7 linked regions of the Homo sapiens genome follow. The protein of the gene in region 5 purifies or fractionates together with the protein of the main gene of each other region. This does not show direct contact. Each region holds a gene or a part of one and is shown on either strand. Other genes may lie near its edges. The genes, in order: PDSS1, FIRRM, MPZL1, ITM2B, FCGRT, HGFAC and IQCB1.

Region 1 (3,500 bases), on a different chromosome or scaffold from region 5:
TTCTAAGTTTCTGAGGCCTCCCCAGCCATTCAGAACTGTGAGTCAATTAAACCTCTTTCCTATAATTATAGATTGCCCAGTCATGGGTAATTTCTTTATAGCAGTGTGAGAATGGACCAATACAGATAATTGGTACCAAAGTAGTTGGCATTGATATAAGATACCTGAGAATGTGGAAATTACTTTGGAACTGGGTAACAAGCAGAGGTTGGAATAGTTTGGAGGGCTCAGAAGAAGAAAGGAAGATGTAGGAAAGTTTGGAAATTCCTAGAGTCTTGTTGAATGGCTTTGACCAAAATGCTGAAAGTGATATGGACGATGAAGTCCAGGCTGAGGTGGTCTCAGATGGAGATGAGGAGCTTCCTGGGAACTGGGCAAAGGTCACTCTTGCTATGCTTTAGCAAAGAGACTGGTGGCATTTTGCCCCACCCTAGAGATCTGTGGAACTTTGAGCCTGAGAGAGATGATCTGAAATTGGAACTTAAATTTAAAGGGGAAGCAGAGCATAAACGTTTGGAAAATTTGCAGCCTGAAGATGTGATAGAAAAGAATTTTCTGGGGAGGAATTCAAGCTGGCTGCAGACATTTGCATAAGTAACAAGGAGCCGAATGTTAATAGCCAAGAGAATGGGGAAAATGTCTCCAGAGCATGTCAGAGACCTTCTCTGCAGCCCCTCCCATCACAGGCCAGGAGGCCTAGGAGGGAAAAATGGATTCATGGGCTGGGCCCAGGGCCCTGCTGCTCTGTGCAAGAGCAGCCCTGGGACTTGGTGCCCTGCTTCCCAGCCGTAGCTAAAAGGGGCCAAGGTACAGCTTGGGCCATTGCTTCAGAGGGTATAAGCCCCAAGCCTTGGTGGCTTCCATGTGCTGCTGAGCCTGCAAGGTGCACAGAAGACAACAATTTGGGAACTTCTGCCTAGATTTCAGAGGATGTATGGAAATGCCTCAATGCCCAAGCAGAAGTCTGCTGAAGGGGGGAGAACCCTCATGGAGAACCTCTGTTAGGACAGTGCAGAAAGGAAATGTGGGGTTGCAGCCCCCACACGGAGTCCCTGCTGGGGCACTGCCTAATGGAGCTGTGAAAGGAGGGCCACCGTGCTCTAGACCCCAGAATGGTAGGTCCACCAACAGCTTCCACCGTGCACCTGGAAAAGCTGCAGGCACTCAATGCCAGCCCATGAGAATAGCAGTGGGGGTTGAACCCTGCAAAGCCACAGAGTCAGAGCCACCCAAGTTCTTGGGAGCCCACCCTTTGCATCAGTGTGACCTAGATGTGAGACATGGAGTCAAAGATCATTTTGGAGCTTTAAGTAATGACTGCCCTGCTGGGTTTGGACTTGCATGAGGCCTGTAAGCCCCTTCGTTTTGGCCAATTTCTACCATTTGGAATGGGAACATTTAACCAATACCTGTACTCCCATTGTATCTTGGATGTAACGTAACTTGTTTTTGATTTTACAGGTTCATAGGCGGAAGGGACTTGACTTGTCTCAGGTAAGACTTTGGACTTGGACTTTTGAGTTAATGCTAGAATGAGTTAAGACTTTTGGGGACTGTTCGGAAGGAATGATTGGTTTTGAAAAATGAGGATATGAGATTTGGGAGGAGCAAGGGGCAGAACGATATGGTTGGTTCTGTGTCTCTACCCAAATCTCATCTCAAATTTTAATCCCCATGTGTCAAAGGAGGGCCTATGTGGAGGTAATTGGATCCTGGGGGCAGATTCCCCCATGCTGTTCTTGTTATAGCGAATTCTTATGAGATCTGATGGTTTTATAAGTGATTGGTAGTTCCTTCTGTGTTCATTCTCCTTCCTGCTGCCTAGTGAAGAAGGTGCCTTGCTTTCCCTTTTCCTTCTGCCATGATTGTAAGTTTCTTGAGGCCTCCCTAGCCGTTTGGAACTGTGAGTCAGTTACACCTCTTTCTTTTATAAATTACCCAGTCTTGGGTATTTCTTTATAGCAATGTGAAAACATACTAATACACCTCGTTTCTAAAAATCAGCTACGCATTGTGGCATGTTCCTGTAGTCCCAGCTACTCAGTAGGCTGAGGTGGGAAGATAGCTTGAGCCCAGGAGATTGAGGCTGCAGTGAGCTATGATTGCACCACTGCACTCCAGCCTGGAAAAATAAAATAAAAGTAAATTCATGAGAGGCAAGGTTGACTTTCAGAGAGTGTGTGAGGGAAAGGTAAGAAACAAAATCGGAATTAGAAAATGACTGTTGCCCCTCTCTTTTCATTCTTCACTGCTTTTCTGAGCACCTCTCACCTCCCTTTGAAAAACTGCTCTAAAGTACTTTTAAAGCAGAAAATAGTAGCTTGATTGAATAGATACTGTATTAAATGTATATTGTGTACCAGGCTCTGAGCTAAGAGCTTTACATCTGCTCTCTAAATTAATCTCCACCTCTCTCCATGAGTAGGTATTATCAGAAAGACATCACAAGGTAACACAAATGTTGAGATTTGAACCGAGATCTGTCTTCCAAAGTCCATGCTACTAATAATTGTTAGGCCACTTGGTGGTAAAAAGCGTCCCCTGTATTAATTAGCTGTGTAATTTTAATCCTTCAACCCAGATTAGGGGTCTATAACTGAATAACTAAAAAGTTATTCAGTTAGAATAGTTCAGTTAGTTATTATAACTAATCATAGTTATTTGGTCAAGCGCAGTGACTCACGTCTGTAATTCCAGCACTTGGGGAGGCTGTGGCAGGAGGATCACTTTTGCTCAGGATTTCTAATAATAGTAACTATTACTAGAGACCTGATAATAATTATTAAGTCTCTTACTGAAGAAGTTTTACTCTTCCATTAAGATGCCCTTATTTATAAGTATTATAATAAAATACTGAACTCATATGAATTAATTACCCATGTAGACTGAAAGACATAGGTTGTCATATAATGGTTGTCATATAAAGCATGAAGGAGGATTGTCACTTTGTTTTCTTGTTGCACTGTAATTGCCTGGGATATCATGAAAGTTCTTACTGGTTTAATGAATATGTAATGCTGTGGGGGAAAGAATGAAACTCAGGCCAACTACTTTGACTGGTGTCTGGCAAAGTCAACTTTCATTGTCATTTTAATATGGCGCCGGGCGCGGTGGCTCACGCCTGTAATCCCAGCACTTTGGGAGGCCAAGGCGGGCGGATCATGAGGTCAGGAGATCGAGACCATCCTGGCTAACACGGTGAAACCCCATCTCTACTAAAAATACAAAAAATTAGCCAGGCGAGGTGGTGGGCGCCTGTAGTCCCAGCTACTCAGGAGGCTGAGACAGGAGAATGGCGTGAACCCTGGGGGGCGGAGCCTGCAGTGAGCCGAGATAGCGCCACTGCACTCCAGCCTGGACGACAGAACGAGACTCCGTCTCACAAAAAAAAAAAAAAAAAAATATGGCTAGAGCAATACATGTTCATTAGAGAAGAATCAGAAAATATCTACCAAAAGAAGGAATAAAACAAAACACCCCCACAATCCGATTCATTCCAG
Region 2 (3,500 bases), on a different chromosome or scaffold from region 5:
TGATAAAATCAATGAAGTGTGTTACGACCAGCAATTCTTTAAAAATAAACTAGTATTGGCTGGGCACGGTGGCTCATGCCTGTAATCCCAGCACTTTGGGAGGCTGAGGCAGGTGGATTACCTGAGGTCAGGAGTTCAAGACCAGCCTGGCCAACACGGTGAAACCCTGTCTCTACTAAAAATACAAAAATTAGCCAGGTGTGGTGGCGGACGCCTATAATCCCAGCTACTCATGAGGCTGAGGCAGGAGAATCGCTTGAGTCCGGGAGGCGAGGTTGCAGTGAGCCGAGATTGTGCCACTGCACTCCAGCCTGGGCTACACAGTGAGACTCTGTCTCAAAAAAATAAAATAAAATAAAAATAAACTAGTATAAAGTGCATCACATGTAAAATGAGTTATTTCATTATAATATGTATATGAGAATAGACATATTTACATACACATATGCACGTATTTATATGTATTCTGGAAGGAAATATAAACTGCATCTCAATATCAGTTATGGTTAAAAAAATGTGAAAGTTATTGTCTCTGAATATGGACAACCTCAGAGATTATAAAGTTATATAAGTTAATCATTGTGGAGAAATTACAGTAACTAAATACGCAAATCTAGGTTAAGGTACCCAAAATAAATTTTACAAATTCCAAATTTCAAGATTAAAAATTTATTTGGTAAGATTTAAATCAATTTTAATGCATAATTAGTAAGAAAATAACATGAATCATTAGAGACAATTTTAATTGATACATGATTTATAGTCACCATATACTAAGCAGAAAGTTTTCTTCACTCACCTATTACCATATTCAAAATATCATCATTGTCATCTACTAAAGGGTCCATGCAAACCATGTCCAGCAGTTCCATTAACTGCTTTTGAAGAGAATAGGCCTCCTTGAAAAGAGCCTGGAGAAGGTCTGAAACTAGGTGTAAACACCCAGAATACACAGATTCACTATTCTGATTACGGATAAATAAAAATGAGAGAAAAAACAAATCAAAGCTCAAGAGCCAAATTTACTTTAATTCATACTATTAGAGATCATAAATTTACTGAATCACATATTCATTCATTGTTTAGTGAACATCCATTAAATATAGTGTGCTTCAAGAGATGCAAGCATGTATAAAATATTATTTCTGACTTCCATGATCTTGCAAATACAGAACTAAAAAAGGGTAACATTAGGCCAGGTGCGTGACATTTTTAGCATCCTATCAGCAAAGAGAGGTATTAATTAACTAGTGATTTTCATTCGCCCAACAAATAGCAATATTAAAACTGTCTGTGACCCATAAATTCTAGGCAAGCTTTTGTGCCTCAAGGCTACCTCTGGCATGTAGAGATGGACTAAATAAGGATTAACTTTCCTTTATAAAAGGAAGTTCTGACATCTAATCATAATGGTAATTGAATATTGGTCAATGCAACATGACATAACTATTTCAGGATCCCTGTGTCTGTCTCAACACAAATTCTTAAAACTTCTTTCTTTATAGAGGGGAAATAAGATAAAACTAAAAAACCCCAAAAAGCCACTTTTAATGACTTCCTTAAAACCACTTTTTTTGCAACAATTATTTACTTACATGTTCTTTATTCTATGGAAAAGTTTATTTCAATAATATAGACTAAAATGTAAAATCTTATACAAACATTATTTTACTCAGCCCCTATGCACATTGATTATATACCATTCAAAGTATAATTAGACCTTTACTCACCTTACAATGCACAAATGTGCTTTTAATTATATGAAGGACTGAGGAGGGGAGACTCTGAATATTTTCCAAAATGATGGATTCCTGTGTGGCACAGATATGCTGAACACATCCTGTGAGAGCTCCTAAGAGCTGCACCATTGTCTGTGAATAAGGAAGGAAATTTCACTTAGAATATATTTTTTGTGCACTGAAAAGGTATTAGTCAGCATGCTGGGTGCTACAAATACAGCAATGAACAAAACACAGTCTCTTCCTCTTTTCACAGAACTTTAGTCTATCAGAACTACAAATACTGGAACAACTGTCTAGCCATTTAGAATACTAACACAAACTTCAAAACACATGGCAGGTGTTCCACACATATCCTTGAAAATACAGGTAGGGTCAGCTAGCTTGATGACTTCTCTTCTTATAAGAGTTTATTATTCAGAATTCATGTTTCTATATTCACGTCTTTAATTCTATAAATTTAATTCCAACATTAGGCCATTACATAAGAATACATAGCTAATCAGTATCAGTATAAAAATTTTGACATTCTTTAAGCTCCCTCTCTCTCCTGCTTTCTAATACATTTGACTTACTTGTAAAATATTCCTTAGAGTGGTCTGGATTTCCAAATTTTGGCTTGACAGTCCTCTGGCTTGACTGGTTAATTCATACATCATGTCATCGAATAATTTCACAGTCTGTAAAAACAAATCAAGTAATAAACAGGAATAAGAGAAATCACTAGAAAAGACAAGACAAAACTTTACAGAGAAAACACAATACGATAATTTGATTTTGCACTAGTAACATCCACAGGCTATCATCTAGCTTAACAATTGTACCTAATTAAGCACAAAATACAGAGAAAAGGTATTTTTACAACATAATCCCCCCAAAAGCCCCAAACAGAAATTTATTTTCCATTTCTATGGTTTGAATCTATTTAATAGCATCAATTTTTTTAAAAAATCACTCAAAGTTCATGTTTTAGAGATGCAAAAAATAAAAGTATTACTTTCGCACAATAAATTTGACTGTCTTGAAGAATCCACATTCATACAGTCATTTACAAGGGTATTTTCTGGAAGGAATTTGCACTGAATCGCCTATTCACTACTCACTTATTTTCTAACCAGTTTCCTTTTGACCCAATTCAAGCTAACCTTCCTGAATTAAGGGTATAGTAAATGACCTTACAAACAAGCTTTTTGTCTGTGAAAAGTTAGCCACCCTAGATCTTAATACTTGGATCTTTCTAACAATTTAAATGACCTAAACATTATAAGAATAGCAACACAGTCAACAATACAATGTAGCTAAAGAAAATACTGTTTCCCATAGGCCTGTTAACACTCAACATCCATTTTCATCTATGTAACAGTTGAATCTTTTTCTGGTGGTCAAGAACAAATTCTAAGAAATATTTCAGATAGAGAATCATCAAGTGACTATGAGTACAAGAAATTTGAAAGATTACGATTCAAAGCTAAAGTTAGAAACCCATTTCAATAAGAGATTAATTACAAATAATGTTTCATTTTGGCACCAAAGTATCTTTAGTTCCCTCCATTTAAAACAAAAAAGGTATGCTTGTGCTTTTCAGAGAAAACATATACCATATATATCTAAAATGTAATAATGTATTCTGTGAATTTAATGTTTTCTCTTAGTTACTTGATTTTGCCAATATTCCAGCTTTTCTTTTTTTTTTTTTTTTTTTTGAATTAAGGGTTTCACTCTGTCACCCAGGCTGGAGTACAGTGGCTTTAAAATACAAGA
Region 3 (3,500 bases), on a different chromosome or scaffold from region 5:
TTAAGAAAAATGTGAAAAGGCTCCTTTTAAAAATAAATTTTAAAAAATACTGAGAAGCACTGCCTTAGGTAATCCCTAAAACCTATGAGGCCGTAAATATTATTAGCAGATTTTTCTACCTGAGAGAGAAATAATACATAAGGGAAATCATACCGTATTGAAGTTTAAACAATTCTAACCTGTGTGGTATGGCCACAGGTGAATAACTCTTGAGTCAGTGTCTCCCATCCTCCCCACCCTGTCTTCCTCATAGAGCTGTGAAGATTAAATGGCATAGGCATATGATGGGCCCAACATCTAGGTGGTGATCAACAATGTAACTCACCATTCAGAAGAAGAATTGGGCATTCTTAAAGATAGATGACAGACTGTCCTTGCTAAACACTGACAACCTGAAACATGCAACAGTACTAAAATATGTGCCAATATATGAAGGGCATTCCACATGCTGGGAGAGCAACAGTAACAACAAATGGTGTATTTTAGTAACTCAAGAGCTAGACACTCTCCTGAGCACTTATCTTGAATAATCTTACTTTATCCTCCTAACACCCTTGTGTGGGAGGTTTTATCGTCTCCATTTTACAGACCAGAACCAAGATAGTCAGTTCATGTTTAATAACCAGCACTCCACTAGTTACTAAATAACCTTTTTTCAATGCTCTGGTGCTGTATTTCTGTTACATCCTTTATCTTACTCCAAAGTCATCTATATATCAGCCTTCCTCCTAATCATCTCTAGGTGAGAGCAAGGATTCTGTTTTAGACATTTTTGAAGGCCCTACATAACCCACTACATAGTAAGCTCCCAAATCAATATTGCTAAATCAGATGGACTATACGCTAAATTAAAAAAAGATAATCAAATCAGAAGATGCATACATATATATATAAAATTTGATAATACATAAAACAAATATCAATAAATATGGGGCAATAAAAGATGAAAAGATGCAGGATAAATCCTGATTAGAGTCAGTGTGGTCAATTAAGATCAATTTCAGAATGGGATTTGATGGTGGAGAGGAACTGATCAAAGACAAGGAAACCAGACGCATTTAAGAGATGCTGAACTTATTTTATCCTGAAGCAAAAGAAGGGCCTTGAAGTCTATAACAGATAAAAAATACACTCATTTTGGAAATGAACCATCAGAAAAATGGATCACCAATTATACAGCAGTAAAGAAACCTGTGAGGCAGGACTAGCCAAGAGAAGTCAAGCATTCTTACCGACACAGTAGTGTCGGCCCCCTCTGGCTGGAAGCTCCAGGAGACTGAGGTCAACCCGCCAGTCGTACTAGTAGACTTGAACTTGCAGGTCAGCTTCCCTTGTGTACCATTTGCCACGAAGATTTCTTTTGGCGTATATACTTCCAAGGCTGATACTCCAGCTGTCACTGAAGAGAAAGGAATAAGGGTAGTTGAAAGTAGGACTTAACATGAATACCACTGTGCATTTTTGCCAGACAAGAAAAGATACAGCAAAGTTACTAGATATATACAGTAATTCACTGCCATTACATATTTCTGGCAGAATATTCTACAGCTAAGTTCAATCAGAATAGCACTATAAACAGAATAATTGCTGACAGTTTAGGTTTGTATTGCTTTTTAGTTAAGATATTTTTATTAGTCTGGTTATATTGAATTTTTTTTTTAAACTAATAGACTTTTTAAAGAGCAGTTTCAGGTTTACAGAAACATTGAATAGAAGGTAGAATTCTCATATTCCCTCACTCTCCCATGGCCAACCTGTTTCTCCTATTATTAACATCTGGCATTAGTGTTATACGTTTGTTTTAATTGATGAGCCAATATGGTTACATCATTGTTAACCACAGTCCATAGTTTACATTAGGATTTGTGTTAGTGTTGTAGATCTTATGGATTTTGACAAAGGTGAATAGTGACGTCTCCACCATTACAGTATCATACAGAATAGTTTCACTCCCTAAGCATCCCCTGTGCTACACCAATTTATTCCTGCCGTCCTTCCCCCCACACCCCTGGCAAACACTGACCTTATACTGTCTCTATAGGTTTGCCTTTTCTAGAATGTTATCTAGTTAAAATTATACAGCATGTAGCCTTTTAAGGTTGCCTTCTTTCACTTAGTAATATGCACTTAACTTTCTTCCGTGTCTTTTTGTGGCATAATATCTCATTTCTTTTTATTGCTGAATAATATACAAATTGTATGGATGTACCACAGTTTATTCATTCACCTACTGAAGGACTTCTTGGTGGCTTCCCTGATGGTCTATTTTTAATGAGGTGATGGGCATATTTTTATTTCTTTAAGTAGTTCTCATGCTTATCTGTTACGCAATTGTTATCACACTGAACTTTTCTCATCATCCATATGTAATGCAATTAAAACTATCCTAAGATATAACTTCATTTTAAAGCCACATTTATTATTTAACTGATCCTTTTCTTATAAAGAACTTAAGGAAGAAAAATGCATGTTTTGGTTTTGTTAGTGCAATCATACCTACCATAAGATTTCACTGTGCTAGGTAAGTAAACAGCTGATTACACCGTATATCACATTTTCATTTCACCCATCAAGTTTTGTCAGTTAGCCTAAGCCCAGGAAATAGTAATTGAAATGTGTCTACCACTTAGAATATAAAAATGGCTCTTTTTTCAAGATCTGCAATAGTAGGCAACTGCAGGAATTGTTAAGGATTGCTGTTAAAAGTATTTGCCAAATTCTTAAAGATTGCTAATTTGAACATACTGCTATAAAAGAAATGCTTTCACAGACAAAATGAAAGTCAGAAAAAAAAAACTTATTTGGCCCAAAATTGGTAACTTAAAAATACCCATCTTCCATATTTTTTAAAGAAATCGTTTGGAATAAATATCTGCAGTGTTGCAATAATTCTTAGAATGTAACAGACGGGCAGAATAAGGAAGAGTATTGTCAGCCAGGACTGATGGTCATTTTCAGAATTTTTTCTCCTTGAAGACTTAACTGACTCTCAGCCAAGGAGAACAAGAGTACTCCCCCATTCCTCCCAACCATCTTGCAAATGTTTATTCTCAGGACATAATGGGCACTTTTGGCTATTCTTTTAAATAAACTGATAGCCATACTGCATCAAGCAGATTTTTTTTTCTGCGAAAGAGGGTGGATTATTATTACAGGGAACAATAGATTATTATTTGCGGTCCAAACCTCAAAACAAGCATTTCTTTCAGAGGAGATGCAAACAAAAGAGTTCCTTGCTATTGTGGGTACGCAGAAAAGCAGCCCCAGGGCACTTGAGTTCAAAATGAAGGACAAAGCACAAGACTAGACTAGTGGACCAGCTTATTCCAGGAAGCAGCACTGGCTTGCAACCCTTATTCACTCTGTGTGATTTTGACTAGTTTTCTCCATGGTGATGAGTACTGGAAAGCCACAGTCTCTAAAAGTCTATAAATAAAGTTTCTCAAGGATTTTCTTTTCTTTCTTTCTTTTTTTTTTTTTTGAGACCGAGTCTCAATCTT
Region 4 (3,500 bases), on a different chromosome or scaffold from region 5:
TCTTCATTTATTAAAATGATAATCATTAAGGTTTTTCTAGTCCTGAGCCTTCTGTTATTCTGTCTGGAGATAAGATATTTAACTGTCTTTTTCATATTTTAGGACCCAGATGATGTGGTACCAGTTGGCCAAAGAAGAGCCTGGTGTTGGTGCATGTGCTTTGGACTAGCATTTATGCTTGCAGGTGTTATTCTAGGAGGAGCATACTTGTACAAATATTTTGCACTTCAAGTAAGTGGAAAAATTATTTTGTGTCTCTGATTTTTTTTTTTTTTTGCCTCTCCCGATGTGCATTACAAAATTGTTTACAACTTGCGCTAAGCTTGTACTTTTTATCTGTGACCTTCAGCCAGAGTGGTAGTTCTATTTTAAAGCTGTGTTTAAACATCTCTCCATGATATGTTTGCTGAGCCCATCACACACAGTCACTAAAAGCAGAGTAACTTGAAATGTTGGTGACTAAGGGATTTATTTAGGTCATTGGGTGATTTTACTAACCTTTATTTTCCTACTATAATTAAGGGTTGAGAGGAATAGTATTATCAATTGCCAGTTGAATAAATACATCAGCCACAAATGTTTTCATGTTGATAGGCCATAACTTGATAGTCAGCTTGGACTCCCCTATGGTCCTGCTGTACCCTTGGGCCCAGAATACAGTAAGACCATGTCTCTGCTTCTTTTCCAGTCATGGTTTCACTAAAGAACTGGGTGACTTCAGCAGTGATATTGAAATAACATAGGATGAAAGTTGTTTATAACTTTGAGTGTTTAATAGTAATCCCAGTGGGTTAAGACAAAGGTCTTCCTTGTGATTGATTATAATTTACAATCTATTTTGTAATATATTTCTCTTGGCAATAATACACAATTTTTTTTTTTAGGAGTTTTGAAGGGGAAATTACTTTCAAGGTTTTATGACTACTTCAGCTGTTTCAAAATTTGGAGAAACAGTTGACAACTAGACTTATTAAAATAATTTAACTAATTTTGAAACATTCTCAATTTCATGCTCATTTTCTGTGTTGTTCAAGATAATCAATCACATGTTGATAGACATTACCAAAATACTAGTCATCTTTTTAAATACAGTTTTATTTACAAGAAATACATATAGTATAGAAAAAATCATCGCAATTCCATTTTCCAGAGATAACATTTGGTGCATTAACTTTTTTTTTTTTCTTGAGACAGAGTTTCTCTCTTGTTGCCCAGACTGGAGTCCAATGGCGCGATCTCGGCTCACTGCACCCTCTGTCTCCCGGGTTCAGGCAATTCTCCTGCCTCAGCCTCCCAAGTAGCTGAGATTACAGGCACCTGCCACCACTCCTGGCTAATTTTTGTACTTTTAGTAGAGACAGGGTTTCATCATGTTGGCCAGGCTGGTCTCAAACTCCTGACCTCAGGCGATCCACCCACCTTGGCCTCCCAAAGTGCTAGGATTACAGGCGTGACACACCATGCCTGGCCCTGTGCATTCACATTTTGTATACCCTTAGTCTTTATTGTGTGTGTAGTGTGTGTAGTGTGTGTGTGTGTGTGTGTGTGTGCGCGCGCGTGTGCGTGCGCGCACGTGTACATGTACTGTGTGTTTGGCTTTTTTTGAGATGGGGTCTCACTCTGTCATCCAGGCTGGAGTGCGGTGGTGCAATCACAGCTCACTGTAGCCTCAACCTCTTGGGCTCAGGCAATCCTCCCGCCTCAACCTCCCCAGGAGTAGCTAGGACTACAGGTGCGTGGCACCATACCCAGCTAATTTTTTTATTTTTTGTGGAGACAGGGTCTCACCATGTTGCCCAGGCTGGTCTTGAACTCCTGGGCTCAAGCAGTCCATCTGTCTCAGGCCTCCTCCCCACAAAGTATTAGGATTACAGGCATGAGTTACTGCACCCGACCTTATGTACTGTTTTTTCTTTTTGTAAAAGTGAGACAGTAGCATAAAGATTTGCTGTAATCTAATATTTTCCACTGAATTGTGATATAAAGGGAAAAGTAGAACTACGTATATGCATATAGAAATTTCAGAAAAATTATCCCTTTTTTGGCTAATAAGAAAAAAGTCATTTAATTAGTAGACCATATCAAAACTTTTTAATATATTCTTTCAGAAAAACTTGACTAGTTTTGGAATGTATTCTTCTATAAAAACTGCTTACAGGTAGAGTAGGTCTGTTGTTTCTTTATATTTATTTGTTACTGGATAGCTAATTATTTTTATGTTCTATTTTCACCTACCAGGAAAAGTAAAGGGAAAACCAGCTGCCTTTCTTCTGAAGCTGTTCTTTTACAGTGCTTCAAAACCTGATCTTAAAGAATATGTTAACTCTGTAATTAAACTGTCTGACTTGTCATCTAAAAGCAAGAGTTTGCAAGCAAAATGCTATTTAGATAGAGGTGGCAGCTTAAGTAATGCTTATTTAAAAACCTGTCTCATGCTGAATTGCTGAAATGAGTCTTTAAACTCTCTATAGCCAGATGACGTGTACTACTGTGGAATAAAGTACATCAAAGATGATGTCATCTTAAATGAGCCCTCTGCAGATGCCCCAGCTGCTCTCTACCAGACAATTGAAGAAAATATTAAAATCTTTGAAGAAGAAGAAGTTGAATTTATCAGTGTGCCTGTCCCAGAGTTTGCAGATAGTGATCCTGCCAACATTGTTCATGACTTTAACAAGGTGAGCCAAGTGTCCAGAATTGTAGAAAGAATGCAGGTTCTGTAGTTTATGCTTTTTGTAGTTTTAATTTCAATATTTGCTAATTTATTATATTTAGAGTTTAGTTTAATAAACTGTCAGCATTTGGTGGGCTCTGCTATGTCTGAAGCAGACCCTGCTGATGCAGCCTTCTCATATCTTATCTCTCCTTCCCCTTGCCTTACCTACTCTTAAAGCCCACCTCATGACTGTTCCTCCTTTGCTGGCAAACTAATATTTTTTATATGTTCCCACATTTTCTTAGATAAGAGGTAATTTATGTTCCTGTTTCTTGGTAGCATTTTCAAAATCAATAATTTTGTTAATCTGTTTTTAAGTTCTCATTCTATATTTTTCCCCAGCTTTTGAGCATTTTTATGTAATGCAGAAAAGTTGAATACCCAAAATCCTCCACTTTGTTCCAAATATTGCCATATTTGCTTCATCTCTTTTTCTGTCATTTGACATAAGTACTTATGCTATTATCTCTCAAGAATGAGTTGTCCTCCTACGTAACCACATAATTATCACATCTAAGAAAATTAACATGATCTTATAGGACAGTAGTCCCCCCTTATCCGTGGGGGATACATGCCAAGACCCCCAGTGGATGTCTGAAACTGCATATAGTACCAAACCCTGTATATACTATGTTTTTTCCTGTTAGTGTACATATATACATATGTTAAAATTTAATTTACAAATTAGCCACAGTAATAGATTAACGACAATAATAATAAAACAGTTATAACAAAATACTATAATAAAAGTTATGTGAAGGTGGTTTCTCAAAATATTTTATTA
Region 5 (4,145 bases):
GCAAGACACTATCTCTGCAAAAATACAAAAATTAGCTGGGCCTGGTGGCAAGTGTGTGTAATTCCAGCTCCTTGAGAGGCTAAGGCAGGTGGAGTGCTTGAGCTTGGGAGGTTGAGGCTGCAGTGAGCCATGATCGCTCCACGGCATTCTAGCTTGAGTGACAGAGCCAGACCCTGTCAAAAAAAAGGAAAGGAAGGAAGGAAGGAAGGAAGGAAGGAAGGAAGGAAGGAAGGAAGGAAGGAGGCAAGGAAGGAAGGAGGCAAGGAAGGAAGGAAGGAAGGAGGCAAGGAAGGAAGGAAGGAAAGACTTCATATTATATGATTCAATTTCTTTGAAATGTGCAGAATAGGCAAATCTATCAAGACAGAAAGCAGATGAATGGTTGCCAGGGGTCTGGGAGCAGCGGCTGTTTAACGGGGACAGACCTTCTGTTTGGGGTGATAAAAAAGCTCTGGAACTCGGATAGAGGTGACAGTTGCACAGCACTGTAAATGTGTTAAATGACAGTAAGGGTAAATATTTTGAATATTTTACCACAATGAAATAAGTGTATGGGAAGCTTTGTAGCAGGAGTGTGGGCGGGGGCTGGTGCCTGGAGGGGCCTTCGAGTGAGGCAGCATTGTATGGGGACCATGTGGTCACTGAAGTCCTAGCAGAAGGATGTGGTTTTTTTTTTTTTTTGAGACGGAGTCTCGCTCTGTTGCCAGTCTGGAGTGCAGTGGTGCAATCTCGGCTCACTGCGACCTCCACCTCCCGGGTTCAAGCAATTCTCCTGTCTCAGCCTCCCGAGTAGCTGGGACCACAGGCCCACCACCACGCTCAGCTAATTTTTGTATTATTAGTAGAGACGGGGGTGTCACCATATTGGCCAGGCTGGTCTCGAACTCCTGACCTCGTGATCCGCCCGCCTTGGCCTCCCAAAGTGCTGGGATTACAGGCGTGAGTCACTGCGCCCGGCCCGCAGAAGGATATTAAAGAGCACCTGCAGGAATTTTTTAAGGGGATGCCGGGGGAAGGGCTTGAAGGAGGAACTAAGGAGGCTTCCAGAAGATTTTGATTAACAGCGAGCGCTAGGGAAGGCCACGGGGATACAGAGGGGTAGGAGGAGGATCCAGAGACCTCCAAGTTGTGGACTCCGGAGGCATCGAGTTCCTTTCCCAGTTTTGTCAAGAATTCCCTGAGCGGCAGACACCCTCAAAGTAAAAAACGGGAACCACAGAGAAGGAAAAAGAAGAACCACAAGCGTTTTGAGAAACAAACAGGCTGGGCCTAGGGCCTGGGGTGTGCCCTGCAACTGGGGGGTGGGGCTGGATGTTCTTGGAGTCAGGGAGCAGCAGCCTCCCACAGGATGTGAGAGAGGAACTGGGGTCTCCAGTCACGGGAGCCAGGAGCCGGCCAGGGCCGCAGGCAGGAAGGGAGCGAGGCTGAAGGGAACGTGAGCCGACCAGGGCCCGACTGAGGGAGGAGGGGCTGGGGGCCTGGAACCCTGGGTCTGAGGGAGGAGTGGCTGGGGGTCTCGACACTGGGTCTGAGGGAGGAGGGGTGGGGGCCTGGATTCCTGGGTCTGAGAGAGGAGGGACTGGGGGTCTGGACGCTGGGTCTGAGGGAGGAGGGAGGAGGGGCCGGGGGGGCCTGGACTCCTGGGTCCGAGGGAGGAGGGGTTGGGGGCCCGGACTCCTGGGTCCGAGGGTAGAGCGGTTGGGGGCCCGGACTCCTGGGTCCGAGGGTAGAGCGGTTGGGGGCCCGGACTCCTGGGTCCGAGGGAAGAGCGGTTGGGGGCCTGGACTCCGGGGTCTGAGGGAGGAGGGGCTGGGGCCTGAGGGGGGCGGAAGGGGCGTGGCGGAGCTCGGGGCCGGGACTCTCAGCCTATCAAGTGTCTGTAATTAATTAACCAACTGAGATCCAGTTCAGGGGTGAAAGTTCTTCAGGTACGAGGAGGGCATTGTTGTCAGTCTGGACCGAGCCCGCAGAGCCCCTCCTCGGCGTCCTGGTCCCGGCCGTGCCCGCGGTGTCCCGGGAGGAAGGGGCGGGCCGGGGGTCGGGAGGAGTCACGTGCCCCCTCCCGCCCCAGGTCGTCCTCTCAGCATGGGGGTCCCGCGGCCTCAGCCCTGGGCGCTGGGGCTCCTGCTCTTTCTCCTTCCTGGGAGCCTGGGCGCAGGTGAGGGCCGCTCCGGGCCAGGGCCCTGCTGCAGGCGGGCGGCGGGAGGCGGCCCCAGGCAGGCAGGGGCGAAGCCAGCGGGACCCGAGTTCCCCGCGAGCCCCTGGCGCTGCCTTCTCCGCTCAATTAACTTTCTCAACGTCTCCTGCTGGGCCTGAGGCTGGGAACCACCTGTCGCCTCTTGTGTCTGTTTCCCTCTCTCTCTCTGGGTCTCTGTCCCCCTCTCTTTCTGGGTCTCTTGTCTCTCTCTCTCTGGGTCTCTGTCCCCCCCCCCCCGGGTTTCTGTCCCCTCTCTCTGAATCTGTCCCCCTCCCTCCATAATAGATTCTTCTCCCTCCCTGGGTATCTGTCCCACTGCAGTCTAGTTCCCCGCCCGTGTGCTCCCTTCAGCTCTGTTTCTGTCTGCAGAAAGCCACCTCTCCCTCCTGTACCACCTTACCGCGGTGTCCTCGCCTGCCCCGGGGACTCCTGCCTTCTGGGTGTCCGGCTGGCTGGGCCCGCAGCAGTACCTGAGCTACAATAGCCTGCGGGGCGAGGCGGAGCCCTGTGGAGCTTGGGTCTGGGAAAACCAGGTGTCCTGGTATTGGGAGAAAGAGACCACAGATCTGAGGATCAAGGAGAAGCTCTTTCTGGAAGCTTTCAAAGCTTTGGGGGGAAAAGGTGAGATTCCGGTCTGGAGGGGCAAGGGGCCGGGTCCATGCTCCGGGGCCCCGCTTACCTGTGTTTGGGCGCCCCAGGTCCCTACACTCTGCAGGGCCTGCTGGGCTGTGAACTGGGCCCTGACAACACCTCGGTGCCCACCGCCAAGTTCGCCCTGAACGGCGAGGAGTTCATGAATTTCGACCTCAAGCAGGGCACCTGGGGTGGGGACTGGCCCGAGGCCCTGGCTATCAGTCAGCGGTGGCAGCAGCAGGACAAGGCGGCCAACAAGGAGCTCACCTTCCTGCTATTCTCCTGCCCGCACCGCCTGCGGGAGCACCTGGAGAGGGGCCGCGGAAACCTGGAGTGGAAGGGTGAGCCGGATCTGCAGCCGCAGGCTGTTCTGTCCTCTCTCCCGTCATGCCCACCTGCCTCAGTTCCCCTGCCAGGACCCTCCATCAGCCTCCCACTGCAGCCCACGCTCTGCCCCCCCATTCCTCAGGGGTCCTTCTACACTCAGCCCTCCCATGGCTCCCCAGCGCCCCCCAGGACAAACTCCTGGCTTCCTTCCTTGCCTTCTTTTTTTTTTTTTTTTTGTGAGACGGAGTTTCGCTCTTGTTGCCCAGGCTGGAGTGTAATGGCGCGATCTCGGCTCACCACAACCTCCGCCTCCCGGGTTCAAGTGATCTCCTGCCTCAGCCTCCCGAGTGGCTGGGATTACAGGCATGCACCACCATGCCCGGCTAATTTTGTATTTTTAGTAGAGACGGGGTTTCTTCATGTTGGTCAGGCTGGTCTCAAACCCCTGACCTCAGGTGATCCGCCCACCTCAGCCTCCCAAAGTGCTGGGATTACAGGCATGAGCTACTGCTCCTGGCTCCCCCCTTTTTTTTTTTTTTGAGACAGATTCTCGCTCTGTCACCCCAGGCTGGAATGTGGTGGCACCATCTCGGCTCACTGCAGCCTGAACCTCCCAGGCTCAAGCAGTCCTCCCACCTCAGCCAACCAAGTAGCTGGGACCACAGCCCAGCATCATCACACCTGGCTAACTTTATATTTTGTAGACACGGTGTCTCACTATGTTGCCCAGGCTGGTCTTGAACTCCTAGGCTCCAGCGATTCTCCTGCTTTGGTCTCCTGAGTAGCTGAGATTACAGGTGCATACCACCATAACTGGCTAATTTTTTTTTTTCCGCACAATCTCTGTTGCCCAGGCTAGTGTGAAGCAGGGTGATCTCAGCTCGCTGCAACCTCCGCCTCCTGGGTTTAAGGGATTCCGCTGCTTCAGCCTCATGAGTAGCTGGCACTATAGGCACATCCACCATGTCTGGCTAATTTTTATACTTTT
Region 6 (4,097 bases), on a different chromosome or scaffold from region 5:
CCCCCATTCACCGTGCCCCCAGCACCCACCATGCCTCCACATTCACCGTGCCCCCAGGGCCCACCATGACCTCCCCCCCAACCCCCAACCCCCCATTCACCGTGCCCCAGGGCCCACCATGACCTCCCCCCCAACCCCCAACCCCCCATTCACCGTGCCCCCAGGGCCCACCACGCCTCCATGTGCACTGTGCCCCCTGGGGCCCACGGTGTCAAGCTGGGTGGTCAGTGGGTGTCCATTCTCTCTCCCTCTGCACAGACAGGCAAATGGGGGGCAGAGAGAGGGGTTTTAGGGGATACAGGGAGGCAGCTTCAGCCCTCGCTGGTCTCCAGGCCACAGTGGTTCACTCACCCCTCCTCCCACCTCGGCAGCCCTGGGATGTCGCTGCTGACTCAGGAGGAACCCGAGGTGCCGTAGCGGCTGCTCCAATATTGCAGAAGAGGTTCCTCAGGCAGCTCTGCCCACAGCCCCAAGTCACGAATTCCGTGACTCCAGCTCCATCCCAGGCCCCAGGGTACCTGGCCCAGGGTTGTGCTGCCGCAGACTTGGCCTGTACCATCCAGGCGGCGGTGGGGAGCTGGGGTTGGAAAGGCTTCTTGGAGTGGACTCCTGGGTCTGTCTGGGAGACGGGGAGGAAGGGACACTCTGAACATCACCAGGGGCTGCTGGGGGGCCCTGGCCACCCCCAGAGTCAGAACAGGCAGGTGGGGCAGGATCTCAGGTCATCCTATGCTACACTCAGCCATTGCGTGGCCCCTCTCCTCCCTGTGCCTGGCCTTTTGGCCAGCCCTGGGGCCACCGAGAGGATGCAGCACCGAACCCTCCAGGAGCCCCCAGTGCTGCCGTCTGTGGGACAGGGACAATCCCATCCCCACTGCTACTGTCTGTGCTGTGCTGGGCACAGAGCTGGACACCTCCAAGGCCCAGCGCCCGTAGTGGCTCTCATCATGGACAATTCACAGGCAGATGGTGGCCAGCTCTGTGGCCTGCAGGGACTGGGAGCGGCGCCAGACCATCTAGGCCCCAACCTATCTGCATTATCCTGGAAGACTTCCTGGAGGAGGCTTCTAAGCTGAGGCCCAAGGACCATGTCAGGTCTAGGACTAGGACCAGTGCAGGCCGAGGCCAGAGAGACAGCTGGGCTTCCAGGTAGGGTCAAAGTGAGGTGGGCAGCAGGTGTGGGGGCCAGGGGACTCGGGGACTTCCTCTCCGGCTGGGCCCGCCTGACGTGGGAGGCAGCCAGGGTTAATCATTTCCACGAAGCCTTGACCCCACCTGCCTTGGCCGCTCTGCTCCCGCCTCCCACTGCCCCTCAGGCCAGCTCAGGAGCCATGGGGCGCTGGGCCTGGGTCCCCAGCCCCTGGCCCCCACCGGGGCTGGGCCCCTTCCTCCTCCTCCTCCTGCTGCTGCTGCTGCTGCCACGGGGGTTCCAGCCCCAGCCTGGCGGGGTGAGCACTGACCTTGTCGCAGTGCGACCAGAGGTTCCCAGTGGCTACTTGGGGTCCTTGGGAGGAGGCCAGAGGGAGGGTCGCCACAGAGCGTGGGGATTTGAGGGGGCGGGGGTCCGAGCAGGGGGCTTACGTTGAAAGCTGGCCCTCACAGGGCAGGTGGGTGCTGGACTGGCCTTGGAGGCTGGGGCCTGGGCTCACGGAGCCCCACCTGGGGGCTGTCATCCCTGTGCGGCCTGGCCTGGGCCCCTATGGGTCTGGGGGCTGCCCCCTCTCTCTGGACCTCTGTTGGGTCTGGATGCGTGAGGTTGGGGGAACCTCCCAGGGCCTCCTAGCTGCTCCCATCACCAAAAACTGACGTCAGGGTTTAAGCTTGGTGGGTAGCAGTGCCTGGGCCTGGGCAGTGACCCTGAGCAGGTGTTAACTAGGGGCCGAGGGCGGGGAAGGTGTCAGGGCCTGGCTGAGGCCTCAGGAATGTCGTGTGTCCTCCTGGAACCTGCTCCGAGATCTGGGGGCCCCAGTATGGAAACAGGCTCAGGGCTGTGACCTCCTGCCCGGCAGGACCTGAGTGTGAGGGTCTGTCCCACACTGACACCCTTTCTGCTCCTCCTAGAACCGTACGGAGTCCCCAGAACCTAATGCCACAGCGACCCCTGCGATCCCCACTATCCTGGTGACCTCTGTGACCTCTGAGACCCCAGCAACAAGTGCTCCAGAGGCAGAGGGACCCCAAAGTGGGGGGCTCCCGCCCCCGCCCAGGGCAGTTCCCTCGAGCAGTAGCCCCCAGGCCCAAGGTGGGTCAGGTGGGCCTGGGAGGAGGTGTCGTGCTTCACCTTAGGGCTGGGTGGGAGGAGCATGGCTGCGGCTGGAGGTCCTGAGGGGCTCGGGTGCCCCTCGAGGGAGCCCTGACCCTGCCACCCCCTCCCCACAGCACTCACCGAGGACGGGAGGCCCTGCAGGTTCCCCTTCCGCTACGGGGGCCGCATGCTGCATGCCTGCACTTCGGAGGGCAGTGCACACAGGAAGTGGTGGGTCCGGGCAGCCGGGGCACCCGAGCTGGGGTCACCTGCCCCACGCTGCCTGCTTTTCTGGGAGCCGGGCACACAGTAGGCGCTCACCACGCAGCAGGCGGACCCAGTGAACCCAGAGACCCTCCAGGGTGGTGGGGTGGGGTGGGGGGCCTCTGCCTGGGACCCCCATGCACGCAGGTGTCGCCCCCCAGGTGTGCCACAACTCACAACTACGACCGGGACAGGGCCTGGGGCTACTGTGTGGAGGCCACCCCGCCTCCAGGGGGCCCAGGTGGGTGCTGGGTTGGGTAGCCTGGGGCGGGCAGGGGGCACTGGGCCAGGCCAGAAGGGCCAAGGGGAGGATGGGGCGGACCCGGGCAGGGGTCCTGGCTGGAGGGGAGCAGAAGAGGAGCTCTGGGATTAACCCCGGTGGGTGCCACTTAGGGCCAGAGCCTCTCCCAGGTGGGACCTGCGTCTCATGGTGGCTGCGCGGCCATCGCTGGGGCCAAGGCGCCGCCTGGTGGTGAGGCCGGGCCCTGCAGCCACACAGGCGTGCCCCAGGCAGGGGACAGGTGGGCAGGGTCTGTGGGGTGCGGTGCCAGCCGCCCTGCTCACATGGGTCCTGGGACACATGGGAGGGGTCTGCTGCCTGACAGTGTGGGTGTCAGGCTTCCAGGAAGCCACGTGCACAGCTGGGCCAGTGGCCCAGGTGTTGAGTGGGGGACGCTGGGAGGAAGGGGAGGTCTGTGCCCCTCCCAGGGACCTTGCACCCCGAGGGGCGTAGAGAGGGCCCCTTTGCTCTCAGAGCCCCTCACTGGGGCCTGATGGACGCCTTAGCAAGCAGAGAATGTCACAGAGGGACCCTGAGCCTCCCAGTCCGCCCCTCACACCCCCTCCCGCATGTCCCCAGCTGCCCTGGATCCCTGTGCCTCCGGCCCCTGCCTCAATGGAGGCTCCTGCTCCAATACCCAGGACCCCCAGTCCTATCACTGCAGCTGCCCCCGGGCCTTCACCGGCAAGGACTGCGGCACAGGTGAGCTGGGCCTCGGAGGTCCGCAGGGGTCCAGGGGCCGGAGCAAGTCCCCGGAGGATGGGAGAACAGGTGGCTCCCGAGTGCAGGGCAGGGGCCCTGCACGGGGACAGCAGGTGGCAGGGTGTGAGGGCTTACTGTGCACCCCTCAGAGAAATGCTTTGATGAGACCCGCTACGAGTACCTGGAGGGGGGCGACCGCTGGGCCCGCGTGCGCCAGGGCCACGTGGAACAGTGCGAGTGCTTCGGGGGCCGGACCTGGTGCGAAGGCACCCGACATACAGGTGCGCCACGGGGTGTGAGCCGTGCCACTGACCCCTGACGGGTGTCCCTGTCCACACCCGAGTGGGAGGAATGGCCTGAGGTCACCCAGAAACAAGGGACAAGGGGTGGACCCCGGCCCCGACTCCGCTGTCGTGGGGCACTGCGCGGCCCCTGGCCCAGCTCCTCGGCCCTGCCCCCAGCTTGTCTGAGCAGCCCTTGCCTGAACGGGGGCACCTGCCACCTGATCGTGGCCACCGGGACCACCGTGTGTGCCTGCCCACCAGGCTTCGCTGGACGGCTCTGCAACATCGGTGAGTGGGTCAGCCCCCCGGGGTGCCCTGGGGC
Region 7 (3,500 bases), on a different chromosome or scaffold from region 5:
TCCTAGGCATAGGGAATAGCATGTAAGAGACACAGTGGCACAGAAGTAGATGTCACAAAGATTCTCACATATTTTGATTGGATAACTTTATAAAGTCTTTCAACTCAGAGATTTTTACATTTAAGGTATGTTGCTGATCTCTTTTCTCTTAACAAAATTATTTTAGTAACTACTAAAGTACAATTTTCAAAAAGCTCAAACATGAGTCTTATACAAATATAAAATTTGACTGCTCAAAATTTTATGCAACTCATTAATGAGGGAACAAATAAGATATTTATACAGGGTCAAAGGAGAATTTGAGGAAAATAGATTTATGGAGTTGGTTTGTCGAAGAAATGTAGAAGTAAATTTGCTGATAGATTTTTAAAATTTGCTAATAGGAAAATATGACTTATAAAGCAATGTAGCTTCTAGAATTACCTTTTCTACTGGACAGAAATCATTTGTATTGCTTTGAATAAGAGTCTGTTTACATTGCTCTTAGATAAGAATCTTTAGCATTGTTTTCTACCAGCCAACCTCTATTTTTACAGAATTGTAAAGTATTTTAATAGTGAGTAGAAAATTAAACAGAGGTACATACGCCTAGAAAATCACATAACTCCTTAAGGGGGTAAATAAAAGGATACTCACTAACCCTTTCCTTTTGACTATTTCTAAGTTTTAGATAATTTTTCACAACATCAGTAATACAAGATGGGTTGTTAGTATAATGAAGGAAATACCAAGGAAAGATTTTAAGTTTCTCCTATATTAAGCACATGATAGAATTCCTATGGCATTTTTGTCTTTGTACATCATTTAAAAATTAACTGTGTACCTGTCTTGATTTCACTTTTATCATTGCCTTGAAGCTTTTAAATTATTTATTGTTTAGTATTTTGCACATTTATATTTCATCCTTGATTTGATTGCAGGCTTCTCTAAGGAGAAGGCCTTTGGCTACTTTGTATTCTCTATTGTACCTAGCACACATGGCACCTTGCACACAGTAGGAATTCAATAAATATTAAGTGACTGAATATGATATCTTCTTGGAACCAACATATATTTGAAAAAGTGGTTATATTCTTGGATCAGGACACAGTCCGGCATCAAGTTACTGAATCTTATATTTTAGATTTGTTGTGATACCTGTACATCAATTAGTAATGGTACTTTTTTTTTTATTTTGTTCTATTAGTGGTGATTTACTCAGAATAGGAAGAAAAGCCCTGTATTCAATTTTAGATGAAGTTATTTTCAAGCTTTTTTCAACTCCTAGTCCAGTTATAAGAAGTACTGCTACAAAACTCCTACTGTTGATGGCTGAATCCCATCAGGAAATTTTGATTTTACTGAGACAAAGTACCTGCTACAAAGGTAGTACATTCATTCTTTCTTTTCTTGGGATTCTCAAAAAGAAAATTTTTATTGATGGTTTATGAAAAACAAAATTCTTATATTTTAAAGAGTTGATAACTGACCTATGTAGATAAAACTCACAACAGATACCAATTCAGAAAAAAAAAAGTCTTTATATAATCAAGCTATCTTCATGTCACTACAGATAGCATGTGGAAGATACTTTTCTGATCAGGTTGCCATAAATATTTACTCCCTCTCTGACAAAAAGGTTTTGTGTGTTGAATATACCATATAGTATAGTAAAATAATGACCAAAAAGATCAGTGACCTTATCAAGACCAGCTTTAGTGGAGAAAATGGAGCTGTGCTTGAGAGGCCAGTGGCCCTTATGGTATTTTGAACTATCAATAATTACTTAACACTGCCTTTCCTCAAAAACAAACAAAAAAAATTGCCTTACCTCCAAAATCAAATACATATGTGAATTAAAAGTCAGAAATTTTGAGGATAAAAGGAGTAAGCGTATATACATTCTCATATAATAGCTTTCATTTAATTGAGCATTTACTGTGTGTCAGGCACATTCCATATACTTTATATGCATTAAAATGTTTAATCTTTACAACAATCCTATGGGATAGATATTCTTATCCTTATTTTATAGATATAGAAACAGAGACATGGTAATTTGCCCAAGATCACAAAGGTAGTATATATATTGTTTAATTGCCAAGCAAAGTTATATGTTATCTTTGTTTTATTTCTTTGCTGACCAGAGCCATGTATGTATTATAATCTATTTTTCTTATTCAGCGTGGTCAGGAAATGGGATTCTAGTTCATTAAATATACTTATTAACATAGGGTTATACTGTATGGGAATTTTTAAAGGTTAGAATATAATATGATGCATTTAATACCTAAACAACTAGAAAGGTCTTTATCATTCTTGATGATTTTGAAGACATTGTAATAATGTACCTTGAATTAGTCATTACTGAGGGTATTGTAGGAATAGAGAAGGAAAGTACCAGTAATAGAGCTCTTTAGTTGATATTGTGCCAGATAGACATTTTTCAATTCTGTAATTCAATTCCTAAAGAAATGTGAATGTCCAACAGAGTCGTTATAAAGGAATTTTACCTGAATCCTTCTCCCTTTCTTTGACTTATATCTCAATAGCAGAACTTATTCAGATTCCTGAAGATATTTTACAATTATTAATACTGCTGAGAACTTGGGTGTTGAAGAGAGTATAAGGCATTAAAAGATCCATATAGTGGTTTCCCCAATTATACACTACAAGGCAATTTTACCTTATGTATTTATTTTGAATACACACATTATAATACATCATTTCAGTGTACCCTGGAAACAGTACTTACTTTGTACCTTTCACTACTACTATGTATTATTTTGGCATGAAAATGTACTATCCTAGTGTTGTAGCACTTCACCTATAATGTTTTCCCAGGAACCTATTGATTTGCCCCAAATTATATATGTTACCATATGTTTATATTTAATAATCTTTTTCAACTAATAATGACTAATAATAATCTGCATAAGTGCTTCCACAGGGCAAGCATTTACTGAATATGTGTCTGTAGTAATTTATCTTTAAAATGTCTCCATTTAAGTATTTTTGTTCAAATAAAAAAAATTTATCTCTACTTTTTGATTTACCACAGTGATTCCATCCCACTCCTTTTTTTTTTTTTTTATTAAAGAGATTGTCTAGACAGATTTTTTTTTTTTTATCAGATACCACAATTGAGCACGTAAGAATTCTCAGGAGGGAGGAATATCTTAAAGATTTCAACCTGGAATTCTCTGAGAAAAGGAAAAAGAAAAATCATATGATTAATCTTGTTTTCATTTGTTTTTAAGCCAGACTTTTTAGCTTCAAATTAATACTGATTAGATAACAAAATCATATTTTATTATTATAATAATAGTTGTACCTTTTGCTATTCCATTTCAGGACTCAGACGTCTACTAAGTAAACAGGAAACTGGGACTGAATTCAGTCAAGAACTTAGACAGCTTGTTGGCCTTTTAAGCCCAATGGTCTATCAGGAAGTAGAAGAGCAGGTATTAAGTTACAAAAAAAAAAAATTGCATGATATTTGCTGACTATATTAAACCTTA

The links.
Region 1: the proteins of FCGRT (region 5) and PDSS1 purify together in Homo sapiens (affinity purification with mass spectrometry; 2 studies listed by BioGRID and IntAct, with this or other methods). This does not show direct contact.
Region 2: the proteins of FCGRT (region 5) and FIRRM purify together in Homo sapiens (affinity purification with mass spectrometry; 2 studies listed by BioGRID and IntAct, with this or other methods). This does not show direct contact.
Region 3: the proteins of FCGRT (region 5) and MPZL1 purify together in Homo sapiens (affinity purification with mass spectrometry; 2 studies listed by BioGRID and IntAct, with this or other methods). This does not show direct contact.
Region 4: the proteins of FCGRT (region 5) and ITM2B purify together in Homo sapiens (affinity purification with mass spectrometry; 2 studies listed by BioGRID and IntAct, with this or other methods). This does not show direct contact.
Region 6: the proteins of FCGRT (region 5) and HGFAC purify together in Homo sapiens (affinity purification with mass spectrometry; 2 studies listed by BioGRID and IntAct, with this or other methods). This does not show direct contact.
Region 7: the proteins of FCGRT (region 5) and IQCB1 purify together in Homo sapiens (affinity purification with mass spectrometry; 2 studies listed by BioGRID and IntAct, with this or other methods). This does not show direct contact.

The regions. Positions count from the first base shown.
Region 1 is NC_000010.11:26,700,701-26,704,200, forward strand, and holds part of PDSS1 (all trans-polyprenyl-diphosphate synthase PDSS1), read left to right. Parts: intron 1-1,457; exon of another isoform or gene 1,458-1,461; coding exon 1,462-1,494; intron 1,495-3,500. UniProt on the Homo sapiens protein: Heterotetrameric enzyme that catalyzes the condensation of farnesyl diphosphate (FPP), which acts as a primer, and isopentenyl diphosphate (IPP) to produce prenyl diphosphates of varying chain lengths and participates in the determination of the side chain of ubiquinone.
Region 2 is NC_000001.11:169,801,540-169,805,039, reverse strand, and holds part of FIRRM (FIGNL1-interacting regulator of recombination and mitosis), read right to left. Parts: intron 2,420-3,500; coding exon 2,315-2,419; intron 1,872-2,314; coding exon 1,731-1,871; intron 966-1,730; coding exon 800-965; coding exon of another isoform or gene 792-799; exon of another isoform or gene 654-791; intron 1-653. UniProt on the Homo sapiens protein: Regulates PLK1 kinase activity at kinetochores and promotes faithful chromosome segregation in prometaphase by bridging kinase and phosphatase activities.
Region 3 is NC_000001.11:167,763,482-167,766,981, reverse strand, and holds part of MPZL1 (myelin protein zero-like protein 1 isoform a precursor), read right to left. Parts: intron 1,400-3,500; coding exon 1,233-1,399; intron 1-1,232. UniProt on the Homo sapiens protein: Cell surface receptor, which is involved in signal transduction processes. Recruits PTPN11/SHP-2 to the cell membrane and is a putative substrate of PTPN11/SHP-2.
Region 4 is NC_000013.11:48,253,706-48,257,205, forward strand, and holds part of ITM2B (integral membrane protein 2B), read left to right. Parts: intron 1-102; coding exon 103-231; intron 232-2,471; coding exon 2,472-2,678; intron 2,679-3,500. UniProt on the Homo sapiens protein: Plays a regulatory role in the processing of the amyloid-beta A4 precursor protein (APP) and acts as an inhibitor of the amyloid-beta peptide aggregation and fibrils deposition. Plays a role in the induction of neurite outgrowth.
Region 5 is NC_000019.10:49,511,316-49,515,460, forward strand, and holds the start of FCGRT (IgG receptor FcRn large subunit p51 isoform 1 precursor), read left to right. Parts: upstream 1-1,345; 5' UTR 1,346-1,435; intron 1,436-1,950; exon of another isoform or gene 1,951-2,071; 5' UTR 2,072-2,085; coding exon 2,086-2,158; intron 2,159-2,566; coding exon 2,567-2,818; intron 2,819-2,895; coding exon 2,896-3,171; intron 3,172-4,145. UniProt on the Homo sapiens protein: Cell surface receptor that transfers passive humoral immunity from the mother to the newborn. Binds to the Fc region of monomeric immunoglobulin gamma and mediates its selective uptake from milk.
Region 6 is NC_000004.12:3,440,671-3,444,767, forward strand, and holds the start of HGFAC (hepatocyte growth factor activator serine protease isoform 2 preproprotein), read left to right. Parts: upstream 1-1,297; 5' UTR 1,298-1,331; coding exon 1,332-1,448; intron 1,449-2,061; coding exon 2,062-2,242; intron 2,243-2,379; coding exon 2,380-2,476; intron 2,477-2,670; coding exon 2,671-2,750; intron 2,751-3,368; coding exon 3,369-3,491; intron 3,492-3,640; coding exon 3,641-3,772; intron 3,773-3,952; coding exon 3,953-4,063; intron 4,064-4,097. UniProt on the Homo sapiens protein: Serine protease that hydrolyzes the inactive zymogen hepatocyte growth factor (HGFsc) to an activated disulfide-linked heterodimer, then initiating hepatocyte growth factor receptor signaling pathway.
Region 7 is NC_000003.12:121,797,061-121,800,560, reverse strand, and holds part of IQCB1 (IQ calmodulin-binding motif-containing protein 1), read left to right. Parts: intron 1-1,186; coding exon 1,187-1,365; intron 1,366-3,333; coding exon 3,334-3,443; intron 3,444-3,500. UniProt on the Homo sapiens protein: Involved in ciliogenesis. The function in an early step in cilia formation depends on its association with CEP290/NPHP6.